Linked DNA regions of Homo sapiens. The protein of the gene in region 1 purifies or fractionates together with the protein of each later gene. This does not show direct contact. Each region holds a gene or a part of one and is shown on either strand. Other genes may lie near its edges. The genes, in order: ADARB1, GLYR1, CCDC137, PUM3, DDX56, GZF1 and SPTY2D1.

Evidence for each region.
Region 2: the proteins of ADARB1 (region 1) and GLYR1 purify together in Homo sapiens (affinity purification with mass spectrometry; one large-scale study listed by BioGRID and IntAct). This does not show direct contact.
Region 3: the proteins of ADARB1 (region 1) and CCDC137 purify together in Homo sapiens (co-immunoprecipitation; 2 studies listed by BioGRID and IntAct, with this or other methods). This does not show direct contact.
Region 4: the proteins of ADARB1 (region 1) and PUM3 purify together in Homo sapiens (affinity purification with mass spectrometry; one large-scale study listed by BioGRID and IntAct). This does not show direct contact.
Region 5: the proteins of ADARB1 (region 1) and DDX56 purify together in Homo sapiens (affinity purification with mass spectrometry; one large-scale study listed by BioGRID and IntAct). This does not show direct contact.
Region 6: the proteins of ADARB1 (region 1) and GZF1 purify together in Homo sapiens (co-immunoprecipitation; 2 studies listed by BioGRID and IntAct, with this or other methods). This does not show direct contact.
Region 7: the proteins of ADARB1 (region 1) and SPTY2D1 purify together in Homo sapiens (co-immunoprecipitation; 2 studies listed by BioGRID and IntAct, with this or other methods). This does not show direct contact.

The regions. Positions count from the first base shown.
Region 1 is NC_000021.9:45,081,080-45,084,579, reverse strand, and holds part of ADARB1 (double-stranded RNA-specific editase 1), read right to left. Parts: intron 1-3,500. UniProt on the Homo sapiens protein: Catalyzes the hydrolytic deamination of adenosine to inosine in double-stranded RNA (dsRNA) referred to as A-to-I RNA editing.
Region 2 is NC_000016.10:4,830,289-4,833,788, forward strand, and holds part of GLYR1 (cytokine-like nuclear factor N-PAC), read right to left. Parts: intron 2,625-3,500; coding exon 2,486-2,624; intron 1,934-2,485; coding exon 1,691-1,933; intron 1-1,690. UniProt on the Homo sapiens protein: Cytokine-like nuclear factor with chromatin gene reader activity involved in chromatin modification and regulation of gene expression. Acts as a nucleosome-destabilizing factor that is recruited to genes during transcriptional activation.
Region 3 is NC_000017.11:81,672,068-81,674,399, reverse strand, and holds the end of CCDC137 (coiled-coil domain-containing protein 137), read right to left. Parts: intron 2,325-2,332; coding exon 2,245-2,324; intron 1,906-2,244; coding exon 1,696-1,905; 3' UTR 501-1,695; downstream 1-500.
Region 4 is NC_000009.12:2,827,096-2,830,595, reverse strand, and holds part of PUM3 (pumilio homolog 3), read left to right. Parts: intron 1-647; coding exon 648-822; intron 823-1,817; coding exon 1,818-1,921; intron 1,922-3,444; coding exon 3,445-3,500. UniProt on the Homo sapiens protein: Inhibits the poly(ADP-ribosyl)ation activity of PARP1 and the degradation of PARP1 by CASP3 following genotoxic stress. Binds to double-stranded RNA or DNA without sequence specificity. Involved in development of the eye and of primordial germ cells.
Region 5 is NC_000007.14:44,571,109-44,575,083, reverse strand, and holds the start of DDX56 (probable ATP-dependent RNA helicase DDX56), read left to right. Parts: upstream 1-1,175; 5' UTR 1,176-1,188; coding exon 1,189-1,248; intron 1,249-1,339; coding exon 1,340-1,501; intron 1,502-2,033; coding exon 2,034-2,194; intron 2,195-2,339; coding exon 2,340-2,510; intron 2,511-2,646; coding exon 2,647-2,737; intron 2,738-3,347; coding exon 3,348-3,592; intron 3,593-3,975. UniProt on the Homo sapiens protein: Nucleolar RNA helicase that plays a role in various biological processes including innate immunity, ribosome biogenesis or nucleolus organization. Plays an essential role in maintaining nucleolar integrity in planarian stem cells.
Region 6 is NC_000020.11:23,368,682-23,372,181, reverse strand, and holds part of GZF1 (GDNF-inducible zinc finger protein 1), read right to left. Parts: intron 3,421-3,500; coding exon 3,253-3,420; intron 2,599-3,252; coding exon 2,441-2,598; intron 2,092-2,440; coding exon 1,741-2,091; 3' UTR 1-1,740. UniProt on the Homo sapiens protein: Transcriptional repressor that binds the GZF1 responsive element (GRE) (consensus: 5'-TGCGCN[TG][CA]TATA-3'). May be regulating VSX2/HOX10 expression.
Region 7 is NC_000011.10:18,624,343-18,627,842, forward strand, and holds part of SPTY2D1 (protein SPT2 homolog), read right to left. Parts: intron 1-3,500. UniProt on the Homo sapiens protein: Histone chaperone that stabilizes pre-existing histone tetramers and regulates replication-independent histone exchange on chromatin.

The DNA.
Region 1 (3,500 bases):
TAATTCAAGACAACTAACACAGTCTAGTCCCCCTAAGACTGAGGAAACAGAGAAAGGGATCAATTCTAATCCCCTGGAGTTTCACGTTTTCTCTTGGACTCTGAATCCATCATTCCACCTCTCTCAATCCTGCCTCCTAAGCCCGCTTAACCCCTAAGGCCTAGGCCCTCCCTTCCTATACCTCACCTCTTTCCACAGTTACTGAGTCAAAAGAAGGGACAGGACTCTCTGCCAAGTGCCAGCCTCGCGTGAGCCTCGGCAGCCATGGCAGGAAGTGACGTAGCACCACCTACCATTAGACAGGACTACACATAGGTTCTATGATGAGTATTTATTGGACAACTGAATGAATGATTATTTGACTCTGACTTACAATAGTCTTCCAGAAATGGAGAGAACCTCGGCAACAAGCAATTCAACTGCCCTCATTCTACATCCAAGGAGCCTGCAGCAGAGGCATGAAGAGAATGCACCATCCTGTTCAGAAGCAGGGCTGGGATTACAATCCTGATCTCCCAAATTCTGGGACACTTTCCTGTTTGCTCCTTCACCAAAAACAGCTTATAAGAGATGCTTTTTTGGCCAGGTGCAATGGCTCCGCCTGTAATCCCAGCATTTTGGGAGGCCGAGGCAATTGGATCCCTTGAGTCCAGGAGCTCGAGACCAGCCTGGGCAACACGGTAAAACCCCGTCTCTACAAAAAATACAAAAATTAGCCGGGTGTGGTGGCATCCACCTGTAGCCCCAGCTACCTGGGAGGCTGAGACTGAGGCGGGAGGATCGCTTGAACCCAGGAGGTTGTGGCTACAGTGAGCTATGATTGTACCACTGTACTCTAGCCTGAGCAACAAAGCAAGACGCTGTCGCAAAAAAACAAAAAAGATGTGTAATTCCTTTAAGCCTCCACAGTTGAATCAAATGTATTTTTTCATTTTATTTGGCTGCCTTTTCCTGAATCCTCCCAGAATTATTCGAAATATTCTTGTTTCTGTCAAGATGTAGTTATAAGTATTATTTCAGAGAATGCATTTCAACTGTATCTTGTCCAAAAGGGGTTAAAATGATGCTGGCAGGACAGAGCTACTTTTCCAGGATGTGGCCTCCCTGTTTTCAACAGATAATTTACTATGTCAAACTTTATGGTTTTATAACAATTTTGAATGTTTTATAAATGTTTCTATTCTACATAGAAAAGTGTGGAAATCTGGAGATAACACAGACATATGGGGCATAAATATATGACTGATTCACCAAGTACAATAGGATGGGGGGGCAGTGTAGGGAGGCAGCAAAAGCATACGTTTTCAGAAGCAGATAAACTTAATGCAGGTTCTACTACTTACTACCAACAGAAAAAGTAAGTTAAAGTTATTCTCTCCTTCAGCAAAGGCTTACAAGTGTCTATCTACCAGGCATTGCTCCGAGCCCTCAGGACAGATTCAGAGCAATAGCCCTGCCTTCCTGAGGCTTTCATTCTGGCCAGGCAGGCTGTGTGGGGAGGAAGGTAGTGGTGGGTACAGATGGCAGAAATAAACAGAACAGTGAGCAGGGCACGCAGCACACAATGGTGCATGAACACTGAAGTGAGGGCTAGCTATAGGCCCCAAGACAGCTGGAGCCAGGGCTCTGAGTGGCAGGAAGGGACAGCAGGAAAGAAGGCCGCAGGGGGACTCTGAGCAGGAGAATGACGTGATGTCTTCCATGTACAGGCTCAGATCCGACTGCTGGTCAAGAACAGACTGAAGGAGACCAGAAGTGGAAGAAGAGATCTGTTAGGAGGCTACTCAGGTAAGCCAGGCCAGTGTTATCAGTAAAAAGGGATGATGACAGTGACCCTTAATAGCAACATCCTAAGATCATCATGAGGATTAAACTAGATTAAACTCACTTTACCATGTCTGACACATGGTAAGAGCTTAATAAATGTTAAACATTATCCAGCTTTCCTAGGAAGTCACTGAGCCCCTTAGCATCAGTTTTCTGATCTGATAAATAGGGGTAATGAGACCTCCTACAAGAATGTCATGAGAGGAATAACTGACTTAATTACAAGGACCCTGAAGAAGAGCCAGTTCTACCTAATAAAAGTTTAAATGCACGTGTCTGTGTTTTACAAACAATGCATTACAAATTTTGTAGGCCGTGGGAAGGTACAGACAGACGCTGGCTTACAACAGTCTGACTTATGATTTTTTTACTTTATGATGGTGTGAAAGTGATACATATTTAATAGAAAGTGTACTTTGAATTTTGAAGGTTAGGTGTATTAAATGCATTTTCAACTGACAATATATTTAAGTTATGAACCTCATCGTAAGTTGAGAGGTATCTATACAAACAAATATTCTGCTAGTCACATATTAGATGACAACTGCTTTGCAGACTCAAACAGAACCCAATACAAAATGAGGTCTCTAGTTGAAGACTCCTAACCTGAGATCCTCTGGAACGTGGCATCATCACATCATCACCATCCAAAGAGCTCCAAGAGCCCTTCTTGGTCCCTCCACTTCCCTTGTCTCCAAGACCTGATCTATTGCCCACAACCAAGAATTCACACCTGCTCTCTTTTCTCCAGTTCTGCCACCTCTGCCCCGCTAAATCATGGCAACAGTGCCAACCCAGGCCTCCATTCTTCCTGTTGCACTCTTGAGAGTCTGCAGGACCTGGCCCCTGTGTCTCTGCAGCCTCACCTCCTAGCCCCTGACTGGACAATGGTTCTGGTCCTATCCTGGCCACTCTAATAAGCAGGCTCTCTGGCAGGCTATCCTTCTAGCCAGAAGGCTGTTGTCCCCCCTCCTGACATGAGCTCATGCTTTCCCTCTGGGCCTCAGCGTACCACATCGCACTCAGAGAGGCCTTCCCAGAACATCATACCTCCACCAGGAGCCACCCTCTTGATGCCATCTACCTCAGCCCTGTCTCCTCGGTCATGCCAATAAAGACAGCACAGGTGCTCCTTGACTGACGGTGGAGTTCCGATCCTATGAACCCATCGCAAGTTGAAGACATCCTAACCTGAAAAAGCATTCAATACACCTACCCTACCAAACATCAAAGCTTAGCCTAGCCTACCTAAAAGGTGCTCAGAACACTCACATTAGCCTACAATTGAACAAAATCATCTAATACAAAGCCTATTTTATAACAAAGTACTTAATATCGCATGCAATTTATTGAATGCTATGCCAAAAGTGAAAAACAGAATGACTGTATGGGTACCACAGTCAAGTCAAAAATTGTTACTGGAACCATCATAAGCCGGGTCCGTGTGTAGTTGTGAGGCACGGTGTCTGCCTCTGTGATCTGTTTAGTTTCTCCACCAGAATGTCAGTTCAAAGAAGCACAGACCTCCTCCCTGTCCTTCTCCACCGCATCCTCCCACGATGACTCACACAGAGCAGGCACTCAGGAAAGCCTGCCCTGAGAGAAAAGAGCAAAGGGAAAATGTTTCCACAGCAGTGGGAACTACTCTCCACTGCACAGATGATGGAGAGAAT
Region 2 (3,500 bases), on another chromosome or scaffold:
GGCTCATGTGATCTTCCTGCCTCAGCCTCCCAAAGTGCTATGATTGCAGGTATGAGACACCACAACTGGCCTTCCCAGCTTCTCTTGAGAAAAAACAGACAATTTGGCAGAAGCTGGCTAGAACCCTGTGGACAGAGCATGACCTCCCCAGACTCCCTGACCATGGCCAGCCCTGCTGCTCTGAGCACCAAGGCAGGTCAGCTGGGGTGCCTGGCACCCGTGCCACTGCTTCTTAGGTCCAGTCAGCTACAGTTGCTTCCATTACCTGCCTGGGCTCGCTGGTGTCTGAATTTTTGAGCCTTGATCCAAGGTCTAATGTTCCATCATGGCCTCGTCACCCAACTGTTGCTGCCAGCCATCTGGCTTCTGTTCTCTTTATCCTGCTGTTGACAATCCTACCGCGTTCCTGACACAGTCCCCTTCACTTTGAAATTCTTCTCTGTGGCCTTGTAAGACCGGCCCCAAATCTTGTCAGCAAGAAGGCGAGAGAGGCACTCTCACTGCTTTATCTCATCTTGCTAGCTCCTCCTGCTCCTTCCTGCCCCAAGCACGGCATTCTTGTGGCAATGCAGGCCTCCGCGCTTCCCTCTTCTCCCTCTCTTCCTGAAACAAACCCATTCCACTGCCCGGACTCAACTACCCTTTTACAAATTCACCTCCCAAATCTACATTTCTAGTCCTGAGGTCACACCAAGCTCCCAGGCTGTCTAGGCCTTGCCTCAAGTTCTTGACATTCCAAACAGAACTGGTACTCTTTCTCCACAAGCCACCTCTACATCCCCAGTCCTCTACTTTTAAGAAAGTGATGACCACTTTCCCAGGAATGAAGATGGAAATCCTCTTTTCCTTTTTCTCATTCATCCTCTATATAACCAATTATGGAATCTTAAGAACTCTTCCTCTGAAGTGCCTCTCACCTCTTTGCTTGCAACATTTGCAATTACCCCCTTATGAATGCACGCCTAGACTTACCTCCTAATTGGCTCTGAGACTTTCCCCTCTGCACTCGGTGACTACTGGTGCACACACGGGAGGCACACACTGCCACTGGCTCAGTCACCTTCCCGGGCCCCCACTGACTCCAAGACGCTTTAGTACCACGCTGCTTCAGTAGACCTTCAGGCCCTCCACGATCCAGGGACAAGCTTCCTTTTTCTCGGCTTTCCTCACTATCCTCTCCCTGTTCGAGAGTATCTCCACCAGCACCGAGCCTCACACGGGCTGTGCCCTCCATCTTTGGAATGCCTACCCTTCTTTCTTGCTAAGCCCCTCCCAGGGCCAGCCCTTGTGCACCGGCTCAAGTGGACTGCTCTCCTGCCTCGCGCTCCTACTTTACACCTGCATCCAGGCCGTGTCTCTCACCTGGTCTATGGGATTCTTTATTTTTTAATTTTTTAAATAAGATTCGGGGTCTCACTCCATCACCCAGGCTAGAATGCAGTGGTGCAATCGGCTCAATGCAACTTTGAGCTCCAAGGCTCAAGCCATCTTCCTGACTCAGCCTCCTGAGTTGCTGGGATAAAGCATGAGCCACCGCACCTGCCCTGCAGGATTCTTGAGCACAGAATTCTGCTCCCACTCCATGAGCAGAGTATAGATAAGCATACTACATAAGCATACTGTAGAGCTTAACTCTACCTTGTACTAAAAGGACATCACTAATCCCGGAAGCTGCAGAGAGAAAACAAACCTTCTCATCCTTTGGGGGCCGACCCCGCTTCCGGGGACTTTGCTCTTGGGCTCTTTTCAGAGGGGATTTGGAGCCTCTCTCTGAAGAGCCTGAAGACACCCTCTTCTTTCCTTCTCCCATGTTCTTCTTCACCTTCCCTTCAGACAGGCTAAGTTTGCGCTTCTCATCACCTGAGTTTGGCCTACTTCTCTCCTCACTGGAATTACGTCGATTCTTGTCATCAGAAGAATTGTGGGATGACGTCTGAAAGTTTAATAATAATAATGATAACTACCACCACAGCTGCTGCCGCCATCGCCACCATCATTTACAGGTGCCATGTGCTGCTACAGGCACTCTGTGTGGTCTCCTCACAATGACCCTAGAAATAGATTCTGCTGTCGTCCCAGACATTGGGAGAAGCAGATTTAAAAAATATATATATCAAAAGTCACTTTCCCTATGTCCCAAAACTAGAAGAAAGGATTTAAATCTAGGCAGTATATGTATTTCAGAGGCTATGCTCCTAATCTGTGTGCTATGAAAGGAAGAAATGGCCTGTGCTAGACTCAAATGCTGAGATATTTCTCCTGGGTCCAAGCAATTTTCCTAAAAGCAACAACCTACTCCAGAAAGGTTAGCTGCATGGAGTTTCAAACTGATAAGCAAAACGCTGACACCTTAGAACTGAAGTAGCTTTCTCCAGTAGCATTTCAGAAGAACAAAGGTTTGCGTTTGGGTGACATTTAATCTGTTAGTTGCTATGCAAAAATCACCAGTCTGGCATTGGTAGAAAGTGAACATTGTGTCTCTCACCTGGTCTTTCCCTTTGGCTCTCCTGAGGAACTCTTCGACAGCATCTACCGCTTGCTGGAATCGTTTACCCTTGTTAATTTTTATCATTTCCTCTTTATGAGCATGATATGGCTTCAGCTGTTCCACTTTGATCCAGGCACTAGCAGAAAACAAACACAAAAAGGGTGTGAACCATATAGCATATGCCCTAAAGTATCAACAACCTCACTATGGCACGGTGTAAATATCCATTTGGTTTAACTGGACTTTGCAATAGGCCTTGCCATTTCTTTCAAAACATGCTATCAACCATCTCAGAGTCTTATGTCTAAAGTATATTTTCTTGAAACAAGTCAAGCAGAACAACCATCACCACCACTGCAGCAACCACAAATCAAGTTCCTCCAGTGAAAGCACTGTGTTGCAGATTATTTATTTCCACAATCGTCTATCAGCCTCCAATGCCCAACCACATATACGCTGCCACTTGCTCAGGGCAGAAAGAAATCTGGAGACCCTTTCCCATTCTCACCAGGCAGCACAAATGGCCACACACAGATCCCTGGGAATCAGGGTACCTGGAAATGTGATAGATGATAGCAGCATTACTATGCAGGAAAATGCCTGCTGCCTGTCAACAATGGGAACCAGATTTATGATCTGTTGATCCACAGAGAGTCAGGGATGTTACAGAGCTGAAGAAATGCAACATCTTCTAAAATTTGTGGTTCCTATGGATATTCACAGCCACTGAGCCTATATTTGTTCATAAATGATGGTAACCATGGCTACTAAACCACACAAAACACGGAACACATGGTTTGGAATAAGGGCAGCAGTTACAAAAGGAGGCATTTAAAAACAAGATGGCATGCTGTTTTATGATGTCTCAAAAAAAAAAAAAAATAGAAACAAGATGCTTGAGATTAAAGGTAGAAGAACATACACCTCCGATATGTAATTTTTAATTTCAACCATCAATGTGTAACACATGAAAGTGAAAGTAGTCAGCTGTCAATTCTGGGGTTTCTGATCT
Region 3 (2,332 bases), on another chromosome or scaffold:
AAAAATTATTTGGGTGTGTTGGTGAGCACCTGTTGTCCCAAGTACTTGGGAGGCTGAGGTGGGAGGATTGCCTGAGCCCAACAACTTGCTGCAGTGTGCTTATGCCACTGCACCCCAGCCTGGGCAACAAAGAGGCCCTAAAAACCACCAGGGGTTTCCCTTCCAGCAGCTAAAACCTGAGAATCATGGATGCAGTGGAGAGCATGAGCGCTTTCCCAGCCCTGTGGGATCCCTTTGCTTAGCCATACACGGGCCGATCTGACACCCAAAACCAAAGGCATTGAGCGAGTGGGAGTGCCACCCGCTGCCGTCCCAGCCCTTTCCCAGGGAAAGGCCACCCCCTTCCAGCTGCTGCTTGTGATCTGGGGCTGAGTTCTGGCTGCTGCAAAAACAACATCCCAACGCGAGGGCTGGGGCCGCCAGGTCCATCACAAGGTGGGAAACATGCCCATAAGAGGAAAACAGCCCTGACTTTAAATATATATTCTCCAATTTAAAACTTTTAACTAAAAAGTAAACTTTAATGTCGAAAGTGCAAACTTGGGGAAGGCAGAAAACATCACACACAAGGCTGTCACTTCACACTTGGAAGGTTGCACAGCGGCCGGGCAGAGGCGCTCCTCACTTGCCAGACGGGGTGGCGGCCAGGCAGAGGTGCTCCTCACTTTCCACACGGTGTGGGGGCCGGGCAGAGGTGCTTCTCAGTTCCCAGATGGTGCTGGGCTGTCGGACTCCATTGCTGGATGTGTGACTTGGGTTTAAGCTTCTCCCTTCTGCTCTCATCTGGAAATGCTGACAGCCTGGGCATTTCCTCCTTTGGCACTGGAGACTGAAGCCTGGCAAGGCCCTGCCCTCAGCAGGAACTCCCCCTGGGCCCCACTCTGTGACCTTGAGCCCAAGACAGGATTTTTCCTTTACCTTCTTCCAGCCACTTTGGGCCTCCCGGCTCTCTCAGAGCCCTGTTAGGTAGGTGACAACTCTGTTCCCACTGTTTTTTTTTTCTTCGTGTATTTTTAGTAGAGATGCAGTTTCACCATGTTGGCCAGGCTGGTTCGAACTCCTGACCTCAGGTGATCCACTCGCCTCAGCTGCCCAAAGTGCTGGCATTACAGGTGTGAGCCACCGCGCCCGGCCCCCGGTTCCCACCTTCTTAAGTGTATGTGTTGTCATCATGTTTCACCCCAACCAAACCTTGGGTGGGCAGCCTCTGTAGGGGACCACTCACAGCTGGCCTGTAGTCACGGTCCCCTGCAGAGCCCTGTCCCGATGCGTCGTCCCTGCCCGTGGCCTGCTCTGCCTGATGTGCACTGTACGCTCGGCTCTGCTGACTCCCGGGGGCCTCCGTCACACACTGAGCCAGCCTCATCAGCTGTCTCGGTATTTGGTGTTCAGGGACAGGGATCCAGCCCTTCCTAAGGTCCACCTGGGCTGAGACTCAGAATGGACGTTCAAAACAAAGAGATGGAGCTGTGAGTGACACCGGGCCCCACGGGCCGTCTGTCAACCAGGCCTTGGCCCTAGTCCATCGGGCACTCACCCCCTGCAAGATGTGGACCCACTAGTGCCCAACGTGTGAACAAGTAGCTGGAGGCCTCACCCCACACTGCTGGCATGGCCTGCCTCTCTCCTACCCAGGTGTAGCAGCTCCTGGTGCCAGTTGCCCCAGAGCGTGGCCAGGCCCCGGGTGTCTCTCCATCACAGCTGCGGCTCTGGCTTCTTCCGGGAAGTGAGGTGGGGTCGCTCCCCGTGCAGCTGCTGCTGCCGCTGCTTCAACGCTCTGTAGGCCTGCACGGCCCGCTCTCTCTCCTCCTCCACAATCCGCTGGCGGGCCAGGGAGGCGGTCAGAGGCTGGGACACACCACCGGGGCTCAGAAGCATCCGCAGCATCTGCGATCTCCTGCCAGGCTGAGGGAGAGAGGGGAGGGTGAGGCACAGGCTGGGAAAGGAGGGGATGCAACAGAAAGCCTCACAGCTTCAACAGCTCTCCCGCCAGCGAGAACACTGCACTCTCAGGCCACACACCAGACAGCGCACACGTTGGCTGAGGGTTTTTTTTTTTCTTGACACAGGATCTCGCTATGTTGTCCAGGCTGGTATCAACTCCTGGGCTCAAGCAATCCGCCTGCCTTGGCCTCCCAATGTGCTGGGATTACAGGTGTGACCCACCGTGTCCAGCCTGTCCAAGGCTTCTGTTCCCTGGCAGCACTGGGGGACAAACTCAAGTTGTCCCCGTGCCCCACTTACCTGGTCCTTGCTTACGCTCCTCTGGGGCCTGGCAGTCAGCTCTGGGGGCTGCAGGACAACCTCACCAAACTTCACCGTGTCTGGAGGA
Region 4 (3,500 bases), on another chromosome or scaffold:
AATAATTTTACATGATGGATGATTTGTGAATGTTTATCTTGAACCTCTGGAAGAAGAGAAATAGAATAATTAACTTATAATTAGCCACCAGTATTAAGAGGGTGGAGACTGGGGAGGGACAGGTGAGTAAACTGATAGAGGGTCAGTGGGTTAGAAAATGTCAACATGGGAGAATTTCCTAAATTAAGTGGAATTAGTACTTGTCTTGACCAATCTTTTTGAGTGTATTAATGTGCTAGAATATGATAATCAACAACAAAAAGTGTAATATATGCAGTTGACAAAATTTTCAAAAATGTATTCCTAGCTGTAGTTTCCAGCTGTTTAATTCTTTTAGGATATAGTTAAAATACTTGTGATTAAGTCCCATCTTCAAAAGGAATCTTAGAATATGATTTTCTATTTCCTTGAATCTTTTATCTTTTTTCCTGCCCTACTGTTTTTTTCGAGCAGAACAGTTTAATAGGAAATGACATTTATTGAGCATTTACTATGTGCTGGCCACAGCTTCTCAATGCATGCTAGCTCATTTACTCCTCAGAGTGACACAGATTGATGAGTTGGTCTTGGGAGAAGTAAGTTGTGTTTTATTGTCACCCAGCTTTCTCCTTCTATCATTTATTTTTCCATGATTGTGTTGCGTTTAGAAGTAAACCACAGATTGCAGAGATAATCAGAAGTTTTAAAGGCCACGTGAGGAAGATGCTGCGGCATGCGGAAGCATCAGCCATCGTGGAGTACGCATACAATGACAAAGCCATTTTGGAGCAGAGGAACATGCTGACGGAAGAGCTCTATGGGAACACATTTCAGCTTTACAAGGTGACATCTCCAGAAGTCTTTTTCTAGTATTTTTACTTTTCGATATGCTCTTCCTTAACTTCCGGTGCCCTATATATCTTTTGAATGTATTTTTACTGTGGCTGGTTCTTTAAGAGACCATCTTATGCCCTTGATTTTCCCTCATGCTTTATTTTGTTTCTGGTATAGTGAGCAAGTTTCTCTTTCTCCAGAGCATTGGCTTTAAATCCCCTTCAATTCAAACTTTGTTCCTCTCCTGAGTGCTCTGTGTGTAGCACTTCAATACTTCTATTTTTACAGTCATACTGAAGGACAAGACTCCCAATAGTTAGCAAAGTTGTGTGACCACCCCCAACCAGCTCTGGCTGAAGTGTATTGGGCTCTCTGTTGCTAGCTTCTCCTGTGTTTTTTCATGTGCATGCATTGCCCTTCTTCAGATTGTGTCTGGAGATGAAGGGGAACAGAGAGACCTAACCTTGGATAGAGTACAGGGATTGAATCTGAGAATAGTTAGCAGTGGGACTAGCTGGTTAAAGAATCTATTTCAAACCTTGGAACATAAATGCACACATGTGTCTGAAGGGATATGGATTGATTCCCGGGTTGCCTCCATTAGCCAGGTTCAATTCTTGGGTTGAATTTGTTGCTGTACTAATTTTGTTAACAGTTCGTTATATTTAATAGGAATAGCCAACTAATTATAAAACATATGGTGGCAAGAATTTGTGAAGTGACTACTTGATCTCATAATTGGGCAAGAGCTAGGTGCTTGGCAAGTAACTGTTAGCTGGTTAACTTGGTTGGCCTGGCTCTTTAAATGCACTGATAGATACACAGACTGAGAATCAGCTAATCAGGTTACTCCACAAGGATATACAGCAGAGCTTTCATTATGTAAATATGGGAAATCTTAAATTTGTTAAAACTTATTTTAAAATGACTAATTACTTTTCTTTTTCCTGAAGTGAAAAAATTGATTAAATTTAGAGGGGTTTGATTGTTTTGTTTTGTTGCAGTCAGCAGATCACCGAACTCTGGACAAAGTGTTAGAGGTACAGCCAGAAAAATTAGAACTTATTATGGATGAAATGAAACAGATTCTAACTCCAATGGCCCAAAAGTAAGAAAGTTGTTTTTGTTTTGTTCTTAAGAAATGACATTCAAAGGAGGAAGGTTTTCCATAACTGTTGCCCAGAAGAGGTAGCTATTTCCTGCTTACAAGTATTAATCTATTCTAAATAAGAGTGCAAAAGTGTTGGTTTGAAACCATTCTTGGTGCAAAAGGAGATTTCTTTTTCTGATATTGTACCCTATAAAATGATAACTAACATGCATTCGTGATTTATGAGCTTTTTTAAGCAATGAAACATTCTTTCCCCAAATAAAATGTTACATGGAAGCCATGTATACTAAACAGTTTCACAAATATAATCTGTTACTCAAATTTGGTTGTAGGCAAGGTACAGTGGCTCACGCCTATAATTCTAGCACTTTGGGGAACCAAGCTGGGAGAATCACTTGAGGCCAGGAGTTCAAGACCATCTGGGGCAATAGCAAGACCCCATCTCTACGAAAAAATAAGAAAATTAGCCAGGCTTTATGGCATGTGTGTATAGTCTTGGCTACTTGGGAGGCTGAGAGGCAGGAGGCTCACTGGAGCCCAGGAGGTCATGGCTGCAGTGAGCCATGGTTGTGCCACTGCATTCCAGCCTAGGCAACAGAGTGAGACCTTGCTTTAAAAAAATAAAAAAAAATTAAAAAATGGATTGTAAGACTTGGAAGCCTGTGCATGTGCCCTTCATGGCATCTGTCCAGTAGTGGAGTGGCTGAGCATAGCTTTTGGGACCCGACTGCCTGGGTACGACTCCTGGTTCCCCACTCCCCCAACTATTACTAACTGCAATCTTTGGCAACTTAACCTCCCTGTGCCTCAATTACCATATTTGTAAAATTGGGATAATAATAGTACAGACTTCATAGGAATTTTGTGAAGATTAAATGGGTTGGTTGTTCCAAAACACTCAGAACAGTGCTTTGCCCATAAAGGCAGTGTTAGTTTTTGCTGTCTACTTGGGTATCACCTGTGAACTTTAGGTCTTTTATGCCTGACCATCGGCCTCCACTGTACACCTGGATCCACCAAGTGTCACACTAGGGGGTTTGGATTAAGTAGGTGTTGTTGCAATTGCTGACAATGTTTGGTTCATTCAAGTTTTAATTCTGCTAAAATTATTTTGTGAAACAGATGGATTGTGAAGGGTGTTAACAGAAATAAAACAACTATTAAAAAAATACATCCACATGTGGATTTCTAATCATTATGTCCAGTGCTGGGGGAAAAAATGTAGATGTCCTTATTTAATAGAGCAGAGCATATTTCAAATGTTGATTTTATGTTTGCCGATTAAATACTAGAAGTTTATACTCTGGTCTTGGTTGTAGATGGCACTAAATCAATTTTACCATCTAAATTTTTGTTTAAGTTTTAGTATTTCTGAAAAATACAGTCTATTTTATGACAAATTGTATTCAGTAAAACCATTTCACTTGTTTAGATTACTTTAGGACTTTGAGATTACCTGTCTTTGTATGACTGTAGTGCCAGATCTGTTGTGTCTTTTTGCTTTTTTTTTCTGTTTTCAGGGAAGCTGTGATTAAGCACTCATTGGTGCATAAAGTATTCTTGGACTTTTTTACCT
Region 5 (3,975 bases), on another chromosome or scaffold:
ATGGGCCTAATGTAATCACAAAGGTTGTTTCCTTGCCTTTTCCAGCTTGGCTCTGGCTCCCTTCCTCCAGCAAGGGTGGGTTGAGCTCTCACATGGCACCACTTTGACCTCTTCTGCTTCCCTCTTCTACACTGAAAGACTTATGGGCCAGGAGCAGTGGCTCGCACCTGCAATCCCAGCACTTTGGGAGGCCGAGGAAGGCAGATCGCTTGGCCCCAGGAGTTCAAAACCGTCCTGGGCAACGTGGCGAAACCCCATCTAGAAAGAAAAGAAGAGAAGGGGAGGGGGGAGGGGAGGAGGAGTTACATATATACACATACACACACACACACACGTACGTACATACATACATACACGCTAACTGGACGTGGTGGTGCGTGCCTGTAGTCTTAGCTTTCCAGGAGACTGAGGTGGGAGGACCACTTGAGCCTGAGATCGCGCCAGCCTGGGTGACAGTCAGACCATGTCTCAAAAAAAAAAAAAGATTTGTGATTAGGATTCTTAGTCCTCACCTGTATTATTTTCCTATTGCTACTGTAACAAATTACCACAAATTTACTGGCTTAAAACGACGCAAGTCTGTAGGTCAGAAGTCTGACACGGGTCTTAACTGGTGACCCGAGTCAGATTTGGGACACAAAGAACAGAAACCAAGCTGTGCAGGTTTCTGACAGGCAGTCCGGTTAGGGAGCCCTACAGCAACCCGCCGGTCCTCTCTCTCAGGCAGTTGCTGCCATGGCTCATTATTCCAACCGGTTCTCCTCAGCCCAGTCTATCTCAGTGGCTCCATTCATAGGGTGATGTGCCCGGCGGGACACTAACCCTAACCAAGCAGAGAGACGGTCATGCCCGTCACGACCTCGGCCCTCGCCCCGGCCGAGGCTTCTCCTGCAGGTCGCGAGAATCAGGTGCGTCAGCGGCGTCCGGGAACGCCGGAAGAGCCAGTGGAGCGGCTCTGTAGTCCAAAGTACCCCGTCGACCCCAGCACGGCCGCTCCACCGCCTCCTACTAGACCCAGTCCTAGGGACTGCGCAGTCGCAGAGCTCCGTCCGAGTACCGGAAGCCTAGGCCGCCAGCACTTCCGGGAAGTGACTTCGTCTCCGAAGCCGATTGGTTGTTGCTTTGCTCCCGCTCGCGTCGGTGGCGTTTTTCCTGCAGCGCGTGCGTGCTGCGCTACTGAGCAGCGCCATGGAGGACTCTGAAGCACTGGGCTTCGAACACATGGGCCTCGATCCCCGGCTCCTTCAGGTACACGCGAGGGCTGGGGAGCCGGCTTACGGGCTCTGCGGGGCGCGCCATCGCTCTTCACGCCGCTTAAACCGCACTCCTGGTCTCCTAGGCTGTCACCGATCTGGGCTGGTCGCGACCTACGCTGATCCAGGAGAAGGCCATCCCACTGGCCCTAGAAGGGAAGGACCTCCTGGCTCGGGCCCGCACGGGCTCCGGGAAGACGGCCGCTTATGCTATTCCGATGCTGCAGCTGTTGCTCCATAGGAAGGCGGTGGGTAACGAGAGAGCTGAGGGGAGGAAGGAGGCAAGCTCCAAAAGCCTGGGAAGGGCGGTTCCCGTTTGTCTGAGGTTTTCTCTTGGCCCTGTACCCGTGCAGGCCGGCCTGAGAACCTGGTGCTGTTGTGGCAAACACTCTGGGCTGGAGTTCAGGTTACCTGGATCCTTGTCCGGCCCTGCTACCACCAACCTTTGCGTAATCTTCGACAAAGCACTTTCTTTTCTTTCTTACATAAAAAGGGAGCACATCTATCTTTTCTACTTACAGAATTATTGTGAGAATTTAGCTTCATAACTAGTATATTTAAAGTAGCTTCATAAACATCAGAGTACGTTATTCTTTTTGAGGGTCAGTGCCTGGGGAAAGAACTCTCCACTCTGCATTCTGAGGCGGGCAGAGTGATAGATGATCAAAGTACTGCTAAGTAGTGTTGCAGCAGATGGGTCAGGTAGGCTGGAAGGGGTAGAGACACGTGGACACAGTGATGTGCACTGCTGGCTAAAGTCTTTAATTCATATTCTTACAGACAGGTCCGGTGGTAGAACAGGCAGTGAGAGGCCTTGTTCTTGTTCCTACCAAGGAGCTGGCACGGCAAGCACAGTCCATGATTCAGCAGCTGGCTACCTACTGTGCTCGGGATGTCCGAGTGGCCAATGTCTCAGCTGCTGAAGACTCAGTCTCTCAGAGGTGGGTAAAAGCAGCAAAGCTGTACCTGAATGAAGCTACACAGTGTTGTGGGGTTGGGTTTGTGTGTGGCAAAAAAGAGAGCAAATCCAGGGTGAGATCCCAGCTGCTACATTCTGCCTGATACTGATGTCTTGTCCACCTCCAGAGCTGTGCTGATGGAGAAGCCAGATGTGGTAGTAGGGACCCCATCTCGCATATTAAGCCACTTGCAGCAAGACAGCCTGAAACTTCGTGACTCCCTGGAGCTTTTGGTGGTGGACGAAGCTGACCTTCTTTTTTCCTTTGGCTTTGAAGAAGAGCTCAAGAGTCTCCTCTGGTAAGGCAGAGGTGGGTGTGATTCCTAGTGGAAACATCTGTGAGTAGGAGTTGGGACGAGAGCGGGGTGGCTGGAAGCCAGTTACTACAATTAGCGGCCCTTGGAGCTGGAATCTGATTGGATTCTTTCATTTCAGTCACTTGCCCCGGATTTACCAGGCTTTTCTCATGTCAGCTACTTTTAACGAGGACGTACAAGCACTCAAGGAGCTGATATTACATAACCCGGTAAGAGGCACCATGGAAGTGTCTGGAGCTGCAGACATGGGGGCACTCAAAGATCTTGATGCTCCTTCTTAGGGGATTCTTTGGTGTTTTGGGTGGGACAGTTGTCACTTAGTGTCTCATCCCTGGTCCTGAGGCACTAAAAGCCAGTGGTCTAAAATCACTATATATTTCCAAGTGTCCACAAGGGATGTCTCCCATTTCAGGCCATGCTTTGCCTAAAATCCTGAGCAAGGACCTCCCCTAAGGGGCAGCTTTGAGCAGCAGAGCCAAAATTCTAAGGCCAAGGTTCTCATCTTAAGTAAACTTTACCTTTCAGAAGGCCTGTTGCTGTAGGCCTTCCCTTCTCAATGTAGTCCTTTATTGATGTGTTTCTCTTTGTTCTGTGCTTGGAAGTATTTTATATATGGTTTATATGGTATACTCTATATACCACAACAATAAGGGCATTTTGGGGTTTTAGGTTACAAAACTGGAGGAGAGTTAGGGTGCCAGGAATCCTTAAATGCATCTCTGCCCTGCACTAAAATGTTGATGCTTTGGTTGGTGAGTAAGTGGCCATACATCTCTGTGTTCTTTTCCTTTCTGACCACAGGCCTGTTTTCTCCCCCAGGTTACCCTTAAGTTACAGGAGTCCCAGCTGCCTGGGCCAGACCAGTTACAGCAGTTTCAGGTGGTCTGTGAGACTGAGGAAGACAAATTCCTCCTGCTGTATGCCCTGCTCAAGCTGTCATTGATTCGGGGCAAGTCTCTGCTCTTTGTCAACACTCTAGAACGGAGTTACCGGCTACGCCTGTTCTTGGAACAGTTCAGCATCCCCACCTGTGTGCTCAATGGAGAGCTTCCACTGCGCTCCAGGTCTGCCACAGCCAACATCTTGGTTGAAATAAGTTGAAGATAGAGATGGAAAGGGGACCCAGTTAATGTTCTGTTTCTTAAGCACTTAGTAGGGGCCAGGTTCTAGATGTGACTGATACTGACTTCTCCCAACTCCAAAATACCTATCATGGCCGGGCACCATGGCTTATGCCTGCTGTAATCTCAGCACTTTGGGAGGCCGAGGTGGGCGGATCGCCTGAGGTCGGGAGTTCAAGACCAGCCTGGCCAGCATGGTGAAACCCCGTCTCTACTAAAAATACAAAAATTAGCTGGACATGGTGGCAGGCACCTGTAATCCCAGCTACTCAGGAAGCTGAGATAGGAGAATTGCTTGAGCCCGGGAGGTGGAGGTTGCAGTGAGC
Region 6 (3,500 bases), on another chromosome or scaffold:
AATCCCTCCAGTAGGTAACAAAATGATCTATTGTTTCAATTCCTTCTGATCAAGTGACTTTATTCCATAAAACAGTACATCAGCTGGGCAGGTTCGGTCTCCTCTGGATGTATGACAGTCATTATTTATTTGTGCTGTAAACATAACTAGGATACAGTGACACTGTCATAACTAAATTTGAAGTAAATTAGTACTGTGACCTCCAAGGGCAGGTGTGAAGCATGTTATCAGCGCCTGAAACACCTTGTAGTGGTTTCACTAACATAAGTTAAAACATAAGCACTTAGGAAGAAAGTCTTCCCTCATTAATTTCTGGCATAGTGCAGCTACATGTTCATTCTGGAACTTAAAGTACCTTCCTCTTAGAAAATCAAAGTGTTTTCACAGCAAGTTTAATAAATTAAAAATGTAGAGAAAAAAGGAACTAGTGAACAAAAGAATTCTCCAAGGTTCCCTTTTTAAATTAATGTTTAAATGTTACATGTGAATCATAGCATTTCACAAGCACGTGGCACATACTCAAGGCCCTAGAACCAAATGTCAACGTTTAACAAATACAGCAGAATCGTCTTTTCATTGTGAATTTTTAAAAGCAATAATTAAGTCCTGCATGAAACAGCCAAAGAAGCATTTGGGACAAAGTTACTGGTTCTTCACAATCAACTCTTTAAGGCATAATCGGAGGTAAGTGTGCTGAGACTTTTGGTCCCTACTGCTATGTTCTCACATGCTCCCAAGGAAATAGACATGTCAGTTACTTGCCTGTTTCCATCTCTAGGTGTGGAAATGAGAAGTCTGGGTTTCTGGAAATTACAGAAATCAAGTCAGAAAAACCTGGCAAAAGTAATAATACTCTGTGTTCTATAATTTGCCACAGTCACCTCATTTTGCAAATAAAATGACTACACAACTTTCAAGTACTCTAAAGCGTCTTAATTTTTCATGCCTCTGCAAAAAAATACTATATTGTTTTGCTAGACTCTTTGGTAGGACAGCTTTTACCTAATCTGATTTTTTTAAGACAAACTGAACAGCCTCATCTCATTTCTAAGTTGATTTTATGACAAACTTCCTAGCTGCGTATGTGCTGAGATTACGCTAGCAGTTTTGCAGGTGTTCAATCTGTCAGTCATACTTTGTTTACTGCCTACAAATGGGGGGTGGGGAGGAATGAATGCAACAATCTATTTCTTCAGTTGCATTTGAGGGTCCCCACAGAAAATCTGATTTGCTTCAATTCAACAGGGAAGAAATGACTGAAAATATGTGGCCCCAGTTTTATTTCAGCTTGGAAGAAAAATACCTTGAAAGTAGTTATGAGAGAAGTAAACCCACATGGAAATATAAGGCAGAGTGAGAAGCCAGGAAGACTGCTAACTACAATATCAGGAGCTGGTTCAGTTCTCTGTACTCTGCAATTAAGACCAGCAGTTATCTATAAACTAGGTAATCAAGAATTAGAACGATTAGCACATACACCCTACACCAGAATTAAGTGAGGTTATGTTCACTGCCTTTTTGTCAATAAAGTAGCTGAGATCATGCAGATCAGGATTTTTGAGGGAAAGCTTTAAAAATGCTGTGATAAAGCCGTGCAAGTTAGCAGAAGTTCAGGAAAATCTGCAGAGGCCATTCTTGCCCACATCTTTGCACATGGACAATTATTTTTCTTAGCCCCACATCATCTTGAGTTCAGCTACCACACACGCAGACTAACAGGATGGGAACTGCTTGAAGCTCTTATTCCATGTTGCTCAAAGAGTGAAGCTGTGTGGGCATCGAGTCTGTCTGTGGGGTCAGCTCGCTAAGCTCACTGATGGTGGTGGCCAGGAGGGTGTCCTGGGACACCACGGAGTCATCTGCCTTGCAGGCTGTGTCAGCAGAACTGTTCTCCTGCATGGTAGGTACAGTGTCTTGGACTGCAGCCAGGTTGTGGAAATGGCCATTTTCTGCAAAAGACAGCAATTTATCCGAAAGCTTGGATGACACATACTCTTCGTCAGGCTGTTCAGTCTTGTGTCCGTCATCGTTCTTGGGCGAGCCATCTACAATGACAAGGAAAGACTTCCATGGAGTATTCTTATCGTGTATCTATAAGTTAAACACAAAACAAAGGTCACTGAATGTGTCTCTGGACAAGTGCATCTTTTAAAACAATAGTCCCTCTACAACTTCAATTTTCAACTTTCACTAATAAGTACCCGCCTGCCACCACCCTCACTGTTACAGAGTAGTCATCGTGGATGGTGCTTTCCCTGGGCCTTGGGGCTTGGTGTTCCACTTCATTCATTCCGTGAGCGTTCCACTGCAGAGACAACCCAAGGAGAAAGTACCTGTTGTCTCGACCTCTAACCACCTTGGAGAATGGTGGTAGGTATTTCTCTTTCCGTGCATCTAAGGGCAGCAGCTTGTTTCTCAAATAAGCCAACCCACTGCTTACTGAGGTGTGCCGCCGAAGAGTGGACTTGTCGGTGAATGTCCGTCCGCACGCATTGCACATGAATGGCCTCTCCCCTGTGTGGATGCGGCGGTGGCGCTGGAGGGCGTTGAGCTGGGTGAACTGCTTGCCGCACTGGTCACAGCAGTAGGGACGCTCCCCTGAGGCAGGGAGAGAGGAGACTGCTGGTGGGTCCCTTTGGCCTACTGTGCTTAATTCTGAATACACACTTGAGTGAATGATGCTGTTGCAAACCACTGGGAAGCCTCAGCATCCAACATAAGGAAGGTTATGTTGGGAACAACTTAAGGGCTACAAATCCACTATCTCTATAATACCAAGAATTTATGGCCTACACCAAAAAGGGGCCAGGACATGTGCCTGCAGCAGGTATTATAACTATAGGAATGACACCTGTTTTCCATGGTAATGGAGTATAAAATTACAAGACCCCTAACAACTGAATATGCATGTGTGCATGTGCATTTACTAACATGTACAGATCATTATCCCTATGTCCACACATCCACATCCACTTCCTACATTCACACCATGACTAAGCTGTCTGTCCTTTTCAGTAAAAACTCCATGTAGCAAAGGGACTTAGTCTTCTCCCGTTTACACACATAAGTGCTCCCACTTTTCAGTTTCTCAGAGTTAGAAACAATCTCTAAAGAAATGCTATTATGACATACAAAGTTTGGCCAGTTTTCTTCAAAAGCTTAGTTCCAAGTAATTTACTGGTAAATCTACAAGCTTTAGAATTTTTTTTTTGGCCAAACTAAACTCCCTTCCCTGGGACATTCCAACCATACCTGTGTGGACTTTAATATGCTGGTACAGTGAATTCCGCTGGGCAAAAGTCCTGAAACATACTTCACATTTAAAGGGTTTGGATCCAGTATGGATTCTATTGTGGTGTTTTAAGTACTCCTTAGAAGCAAAACTCTTGCCACATGTTTCACACATAAAAGGTCTTTCACCTACATGAGAAAATGAAATAAAGTCATAAACAATACAGGCATTAAAAACACATGGAACAGTAGGTCTCCACTGTTAAAAC
Region 7 (3,500 bases), on another chromosome or scaffold:
AATTCTGAATCTGAGTCAAGGCACCAGGCTGCTTCATTGTTTGAGCTTCATGGAAAGCAGCTGGACAAGAGTTTCTTTTATCCTAAGCATATCCATTTTATTACACTGCAAGCCAACTCAGTCATTCTGCTACACCCCAATGAATGATCCACCACAGTGAAGCTTGTCATTTAAATACAACATCAGAGATTTTGCCAAGATTTGTAACTCTGAAGCCAAGAGCTTTAGAAAATATTAAGCCACTTTAAAACATATCTGTTCCTTGCATTTAAACTGTATCATCTAAGCCAGATTAAGAAAATAAGGAGACATTAGTCTAGAAACATGTGTACACCGACTACTGTATGTTATGTTGGAATCGATAGTCAATCCCTGGCCAGGCGTGATGGCTCACGTCTGTAATCCCAGCACTTTGGGAGGCTGAGGTGGGTGGATCACCTGAGGTTGGGAGTTCAACACCAGCCTGACCAACATGGAGAAACCCCATCTCTACTAAAAATACAAAACTACCCAGGCGGGATGGCGCATTGCCTGTAATCCCAGCTACTAGGGAGGCTGAGGCAGGAGAATTGCTTGAACCCGGGAGGCAGAGGTTGTGGTCCGCCAAGATCGCGCCATTGCACTCCAGCCTGGGCGACAGAGCGAGACTCCGTCTCAAGAAAAAAAAAAGTCAATTCCTCCATGAAAGCTGTTCTTTACCCAGGAGATAACATATTGTTTCGACTGTAGAAAATATAAATTTCTTGATGGCTTTACATAAGAGATTTATAACTGGTTAGAATTAGGAGTTAGGAATATTCAAAGAATGCTGCATCCTTAACTTTAATAATCACCACAGTTTTTAAAAATTTTCTCAGAACATCAGAGTCAGAGAAAGAAAGTAGGCCTGGAAAACCAATGGTTCCATTAGAACTGCTTAGCTGGATGGCTAAGAGGATAAAAATTAATAACCTGCCCCAAAAGATGCTATTCATAATTGCTATGGAGTTAAATGTAAATTTTACTGTTATTGTGTTTACAAAAACATACCTGATTATAAAATGTAATAATATCAGATAGGTGTCTCATGGAGTCTCCAGTCCAACCTCTATGTTAGAAATGGCCCAGAACACCTGTGTATTTACTGGCAATCACACGGTTTATAGCAGAGTCTGAATTAGAATCCAGATCGCCTAACTCAGCCCCAAAATATTCTCACTACAACACATCTCATTTTTTTTTTTTAGAAATACATAGGGTCTTGCTTGATTTGTCACCCAGGCGGCTGGAGTACAGTGGCATGACCTTGGCTCACTGTGGCCTCAAACTCCTGGGCTCCAGTGAGTCTCCCACCTTAGCTTCCCGAGTAACTGGGACTACAAGCACACACCACCACAACTGGCTATTAATAATTTTTGTATTTTTTGTAGAGATTGGGGGGGGGGTCTCACTTTGTTGCCCATGATGGTCACTTCTAATTTAACTCCAACACTTTCTTTTTTTTTTTTTTTTGAGATGGAGTCTCGCTCTGTTGCCCAGGCTGGAGTACAGTGGCGTGGTCTCGGCTCACTGCAACCTCCACCTCCTGGGTTCAAGCAATTCTCCTGCCTCAGCCTCCCAAGTAGCTGGGACTGATTATAGGCACCTGCCACCACACCCAGGTAATCTTTTGTATTTTTAGTAGAGACAGGTTTCACCACGTTGGCCAGGTTGGTCTCGAACGCCTGACCTCATGATCCACCCACCTCAGCTTCCCAAAGAGCTGGGATTACAGGCGTGAGCCACAATGCCTGGCTCCACCACTTTCATCTCTAGTTTTTAATTTAACTCCAACACTTGGATCTCTAGTTCTAACCTCCTTTCCCTAATTTCCACCTGCCTCTTGGATAATGCCAGTACTTCAGAAAGGTCTACAACCAAACTTCTATCTTATCCTCCCTCACCTTCAGACTCTACTTCTGTTAACCATGCTGGCACTGTCCTAAACAAGCTGTAAATATCCTTCTGCCTATCAGTTTCCAAATGATTTTGGTTCAGCCTTTACATTTGTCTCCCATCAGACTCTACTGTATACTAAGAATGTCATTAAAAAACAAAACAAACAAACAAAAAAAAAAAACAGAGTTACTGCCTAAGGCTGGAGTTGGGGATAGGGAACTGGATGGGTTCAAGCTGTGTAGGTAACAACCTTCCTCACTATACCATCCTCAGTACACGCCCCTCATTCAACACAAGCTCATGATTAAGAGCAAGAACTCTGGAGCTAATCTGCCTGGATTAGATTCTCTGCTCTACCATATCTAGCGTTAGCTCTGTGACCATGGGCAAGTTACGGGCCTCAGTTTCCTCATTAGTAAAATACTGCTCATTATATGGTTATTATGATGATTAAATTAATATATAAAGTGCTTAGAACAGTGCCTGGCACAGAGTATGCACTATAAAGGTTAATTGTTATTCAGAAAGAGATTATCTTGGTAGTGATGGGGAAGGGAAATAACAGAACCTCTATGGGAAAAAGGTGAACAGTAGTTTCTAAAAGACCCTCTCCCTAAAACACTAGTTGAGAGGTACTGCTCTAGGCTAGAAATCCAACACTGCCCCAGACATGAGACAAGTCATCTTCAGATCTGTGAAAGAAAATGGAGAGTCTATTTGGGGCTTCTAAAGGTTGTTCAGCCCTGAGGAGGTTGACTTTGGAGACAGAGTCTTGGAGCATGACCTATTAATTAATGACCTTTTGTTTTAAATTAACTTCCTTATTTTTTTGTACCAGGCTCAGACCACATGGCTGAGATAAAAGACCCTTGGCCAGGCATGGTGGCTCATGTCTATAATCCCAGCACTTTGGGAGGCCGAGGTGGGTGGATCACCTGAGGTCAGGAATTCGAGACCAGCCTGGCCAGCATGATGAAACCCCATCTCTACTAAAAATACAAAAAAAAAAAAAAAAAAAAATTAGCCAGGCGTGGTGGCACATGCCTGTAATCCCAGCAAAGACTGGAAGGCTGAGGCAAAAGAATGGGTTAAACCTGGGTAGCAGAGGTTGCAGTGAGCCAAGATCATGCCATTGCACTCCAGCCTGAGTGACAGAGCAAGACTCCATCTCCAAAAACAACAACAACAACAAAAAACCCTTCACCGGGCGTGGTGGCTCACATCTGTAATCCCAGCACTTTGGGAGGCCAAGGCGGGTGGATCACTTGAGGTCAGGAGTCCAAGACCAGACTGGCCAACATAGTGAAACCCCATCTCTACCAAAAAATACAAAAATTAGCCAGGCACGGTGGCTCACGCCTGTAATTCCACCACTTTGGGAGGCCGAGGGGGGTGGATCATGAGGTTAGGAGATCGAGACCATCCTGGCTAACACAGTGAAACCCCGTCTCTACTAAAAATACAAAAAAAGTAGCCAGGCATGGTGGCGGATGCCTATAGTCCCAGCTACTCGGGAGGCTGAGGCAGGAGAATGGCGTGAGCCCGCGAGGCGGAGCTTGCAGTGAGCCGAGATCATGCCACTG